Regions from separate parts of the Homo sapiens genome. Here region 2 is linked to region 1. The links come from fine-mapping of genetic effects on gene expression. A gene starts in region 1. The other region holds a variant in brackets. All regions are shown on one strand. Distances are from middle to middle. Region 1 holds the start of TAF2 (TATA-box binding protein associated factor 2). Region 2 overlaps TAF2 (TATA-box binding protein associated factor 2).

Region 1 (2,973 bases):
AAGAAAATAAGGAAAAAATAATTTTTATTATTAAATCAAAGTATAATTCTATCCAAGTATAAATTAGGACTATGTTCTAAGTAATTCAAAATTACATGTCAATATTTCATTTTAAAACTACGAATTGGGGCCTGGTGCGGTGGCTCACGCCTGTAATCCCAGCACTTTGGGAGGCCACGGCAAGCGGATCACGAGGTCAAGAGTTCGAGACCAGCCTGGCCAACAGAGTGAAACCGAGTCTCTACTAAAAATACAAAAGTTAGCCGGGCATCGTGGCACACGCCTGTAATCCCGGCTACTCAGGAGGCTGAGCCAGGAGAAAAGCTTGAACCCGGCAGGTGGAGGCTGCAGTGAGCCGAGATCGCGCCGTTGCACTCCAGCCTGGGCGACTGAGAGACTCCGTCTTAAAAATTAAAAAATTAAAAAAAAAAAAACACTCTACCAATTGGGATAATTTTTTAAAATCTAGCAACAGTCACGAAAACAGATTTGACAGAAATACAATCTAGTACTTAGACAAAAACTTTAGTAACTTGCAACGGGAATTAAATTTGCTGAATAACCTGTCATTCAAAACATTTTTACCTTACAAACACCATTTCCATCACAGTGAGTAAATTCTAGTTTCCCACTAGGTTTCCCAGGCCCACCAAGTCAATTTCAAGCAATCGCAAAATATAATTAATGGCAACAAAACCAAAAGGAAGGAAGGGAAATGAAAAAATACTTATAATTTATATGGCCTTGGGCTTTCAAAGCCCTTGTCTCCTTTCTTCCTGTTCATTCTGGCGGGCTCTACACCAGTCAGCGGCATGAAGCGGTCCCGCGGAGCTTGGCTTCCCGGCTTCCTAGGGGGATACGGGGCATTACTAGTCTTTGGCACCTCACACTCTCCACTCCCCTGCGGTCCCCAAGTCACGTCTCGCAGCTGGCCGGTGCCCAGGTGAGCGACCTGACGGGTCGCTGCCCGCCTCAACCTCGCTCCTTCGACTAGCTCCTAGAAGCCGCCGTCGACAAGCTTCTGTCACAGAGATGCTCCTCTCCGCAAGGGCTCGAAGCTACCATCCGCCGACATCTTGTCTGTAACCTCTGACCTCCGACGTCAGCGGAAGTGGAACGGCGGCGGGGGTAGAACCAGGAAGTCTTGTCAATGGGCAGGGCTTGCGATCTTCGCATGTGTCTTATCGTAAAGAATTGTTAAAATTTAGGATAGGGAAAAAACTATTTAATGGATGAAGCGAGAACAGCAGGAAGAAAAGGAGGGAAGGTAGTTTTCTAGTACAAGCATATTGAGAAGAATGGAGGACAAAGTTTGCGAAGAGCCAGGTATAAATAGGCTGGGGCAGGGTGCTAGTAACTGGGCGGGGTGGGGTGGTGGGAAGTCTCCCGAAATCAGGAGGTGCGTGCCTCTGGCTTGCTGTGTGAACAGACACACTGGGTCCGGTGATTTAAGCTGTAAAATATGTGATTAGACTGCAGGTAGTCTAAATGTCAAAACTGCAGCACTCCACAGCTCTCACTAGGCACTGCTGCCTTAGTATTTATTTTAAAATATAGATTACAAGGCCGGGCGCAGTGGCTCACTCCTGTAATCCCAACACTTTGGGAGGCCGAGGCGGGCCGATCATTTGAGGTCAGGAGTTCGAGACCAGCCTGACCAACATGGTGAAACCCCGTCTCTACTAAAAATTACACAAAATTAGCTGGGCGTGGTGGTGCACGCCTGTAATCCCAGCTACTTGGGAGGCTGGGGCAGGAGAATTGCTTGAACCTGGGAGACGGAAGTTGCAGCGAGCTGAGATCGTTCCACTGCACTCCAGCCTGGGCGACAGAGCTGAGACTGTCTCAGAAAAAAAAAAAAAGAATAAAATATAGACTACAGGCCAGGCGTGGTGGCTCACGCCTGTAATCCTAGCACTTAGGGAAACTGAGGCAGTCATATCACTTGAGGTCAGCAGTTCAAGACCAGCCTGGCCAACATGGTGAAAGCCCGTCTCTAGTAAAAATACAAAAATTAGCCCTGCGTCGTGGCGTGCGCCTGTATTCCCAGCCACTCGGGAGGGTGAGGCACCAGAATCACCTGAACTCGGGAAGCCGAGTTTGCAGTGAGCTGAGATCATGCCATTGCACTCCAGTCTGGGAGACAAAGCGAGACTCCCTCTCAAAATAAATAAATAGACTACATAGAGATATATAGACTGTGTATATATATCATATAATCCATATAAATGCAGAAACATTTATTGAAAGACATTTCGAAGCCATCGTGTTTGTATTTCATGTTCATGACAATAAAACTTGTAAACTTCAGTAACAGTTAAACCTTCTTTAATTATGGATTAGCCATTAACATTTTTGAAACGTGGACCATTTAACCTCGGCCTACCCCCTCCAACTGTCCTGGTGATGAGTTCATTAGCTAAGTTAAAATTAATTTGAACTTTGATCTAAACCAAAACAAATCAGGAAAATAAAGCTGTAAAGGAACTTTATCAAGCATTCCAAAACCAACTAGAAATTACTTGAAGTTTTCGAGTGAGCATTGCCTGTGCCAGTATTCTTCATTATAGGATTATAAACTCGTTTTTTTCCCAAAGCGCATGTCTACGCCAGGCAGAGGAGTAATTATTCAGCCAATTTCATGGATGTAAACGATGGATATAAATAATTGATAGCACCTAGAGGCTTCCAGTTTGGGTGGAAGGCTAAAAGTAGAGGGGAACTCACTCACTTGAGAAATGATATTTAAGTGAATAAATAGTTCTCTTCTATGAAACTATTACTATTTAGTTCTCTGGAAAACTTAAGTGTATTAATGATTAGAACATCAAATCCTAAGTAAAGAAATGACATTTTAAATATAAAAAGCCAAACTTTAAATAAATCATAGAGACCTCAGACATAATATAGGAAAGAATTCTTTTGTCCTTGTTTACACTGTGTACATAGTACAAATATAATTTTAAAGCTACA
Region 2 (2,500 bases), 31 kb before region 1:
TTTTTTTTTTTTGAGATGTCGCTCTGTCATCAAGGCTGGAGTGCAGTGGCACAATCTCAGCTCACTGCAAGCTCTGCCTCCTGGGTTCAAGCCATTCTCCTGCCTCAGCCTCCCGAGTAGCTGGGACTACAGGCGCCCACCACCACGCCTGGCTAATTTTTTGTATTTTTAGTAATGACAGGGTTTTACTGTGTTAGCCAGGATGGTCTCGATCTCCTGACCCTGTGATCCGCCCACCTTGGCCTCCCAAAGTGCTGGGATTACAGGCATGAGCCACCGTGCCTTGCCAATATCTATCTTTTTAAAAGCAGTAAAGGGCCAGGAGGAGAGTAAGAGAGGAAAGCTCTGACTTACCTCATGCATGTATGGATCTACCAGTATTTCAAATGGTCCAATGGCCAAGGAGATATTTGACGCTGCTGTAGGAATGGTAAGCATATAATGGAAAGTTTTCTTCCTCATATCATGAGTATACACTGTCTCCACCAAATCGCCATTAGAAACAGCAACCATTGCAGCATCTACTGTAAATTCTAATTTCCATGTACACAATTCAGAGTATGAATCAACACAAGGGAACCAAAATCTAGAAAAAAGATTGACAGTATAGAAAATGTATTCAAAGAGTTCTCTACATTGTTTTCCCCACATGCAAGTTATTTTAGCATTTCTAGAAAATGAACAAACAAAACCTTTAGCTATTTGGCTACTGAAGCTTTTTACTGTACAACCTGAAAAAAATCTGATAAAATAAAATCTGTTTCCAAATACTATTTGGCAATATTAAGAAAATATATTATGTGGTACCATCAGTTCAAACCCTAAAAAGAGTTAAGCAATTCTTAGCTTTCAGTGTTTTAAAAAATAATTTTAACTTGTATCCGCATATTAGTCAGTTTTTATGCAGCATTCATTTCTAGAAACTAAAAAAGGCTCACAGCAAAAAGTTTTATAAAGCATAACTAACATTCAGAATTTATTCCATTAAATTATAAAACTGCTTTTTTGGAGTATGTAACGTATTGTATAAATTCAAACTGAGTGCTGGTTAAGTTAGATATAAAATTTATAGTCAGCTTTCATCAGTTCAGTAAGGTGTTAC[G/A]TGACAGGGTAGGTACTTAGTATTGAAGCACAAAAGTGTGTAAGACATTATCCCTGGTTTAGAGAAGTTATTATAATAATCTGAGGACAGGCTGGGCGCAGTGGCTGACACCTGTAATCCCAGCACTATGGGAGGCTGAGGCAGGTGGATTACCTGAGGTCAGGAGTTGGAAACCAGCCTGGCCAACATGGTGAAACCCTGTCTCTACTAATAATACAAAAATTGGCCAGGCATGTGGCATCTGCCTGTAATCCCAGCTACTCCAGAGGCTGAGGCAGGAGGATCACTTGAACCTGGAAGGTGGAGGTTGCATGAGCCGAGATTGCATGAGCCGAGATTGCGCCACTGCACTCCAGCTGGTGCAACAGGCTATCTCTACTAAAGATATGACGAAACCTGATCTCTACTAAAAATAAAATAATTAGCCAGGTGTGGTGGCACATGCCTGTAGTCCCAGCTACTTAGGAGGATAGGTAGGAGAATCACTGGAACCCAGGAGGTGGGGATTGCAGTGAGCCAAGATTATGCCACTGCACTCCAGCCTGGACAACAGAGTGAGACTCTGTTTCAAAAAAAATAAATAAATAAGCAGAGTTGAGTAGTAGAATGTGGAGTGGGGAAGTAGAGTATGAAAGCAGGTGAGAGGAGGTCTCTATAATCTTGTAATATTCTTTGTCTCTAGATGTAAATTATGTAGGCTTGTTCACTTGTGAAAATTCATCGAGCTTTACATTCTGTGCAATTTTCTGTATGTATGTTTTACTTCAATATAAAGTTTTTAAAAAAGAAGGAATCAAGTGAGATGATTATTTTAGAACAGTAGACATGAAAATGAGAGAGAAGAAGGGAGATGTAAGATTGAGGAGGGGTCGGGCATGGTGGCTCATGCCTGTAATCCCAGTACTTTGGGAGGCTGAGGCAGGCAGATCACTTGAGGTCAGGAATTAAAGGCCATTCTGGCCAACATGGTAAAACCCCATCTGTACTAAAAATATAAAAAATTAGGCAGGTGTAGTGGTGAATGCCTGTAATACCAGCTACTTGGGAGGCTGAGGCATGAGAATCACTTGAACCCAGGAGGCACAGGTTGCAGTGAGCAGAGATAGCACCCCAGTGTATTCCAACAAGGGTGACAGAGCAAGACTGTCTGAAAAAAAAAAAAGAAAAAAAAATTTTTTTTTAAGAGGAATGACTAACAGAAAGTAATTTGAAAGAAGTCTAAATTTGGAAGGGAATAAAACTAGTATTTCTTGTTTTACACCAAATGTATGTCTTGCTTATACATAAAAAATGCAATTTAAAAATTAATTGAAATATTTAAGAATCTATAATCTACCTTGTAGAATTTTGATACCCACAAGAGAAAACATGAGCACCTCTCTCTGCCATACTTCCCTC

The links. PIP is the estimated chance that this variant, and not a neighbour inherited with it, causes the effect.
Region 2: its variant is the best candidate, but not a certain one, in a credible set for the expression of TAF2 in whole blood (INTERVAL, PIP 0.72).

What each region holds. Positions count from the first base shown.
Region 1 is chr8:119,831,751-119,834,723 of GRCh38, forward strand. TAF2 (TATA-box binding protein associated factor 2) reads right to left here and starts at 1,091. Exons shown (of 26, transcript NM_003184.4): 1 at 732-1,091. The coding sequence starts at 814. DSCC1 (DNA replication and sister chromatid cohesion 1) reads right to left here. Exons shown (of 9, transcript NM_024094.3): 9 at 2,226-2,973. It overlaps LOC105375728 (a long non-coding RNA gene), which reads left to right and starts at 1,129. Exons shown (of 4, transcript XR_928590.3): 1 at 1,129-1,326. RefSeq lists enhancers at 743-792, 853-1,212.
Region 2 is chr8:119,801,440-119,803,939 of GRCh38, forward strand. TAF2 (TATA-box binding protein associated factor 2) reads right to left here. Exons shown (of 26, transcript NM_003184.4): 5 at 2,439-2,500; 6 at 355-586. Among named protein-coding and RNA genes, the nearest start is that of TAF2, 30 kb to the right of the region's middle. The variant G/A (reference allele first, on the strand shown) is at 1,103.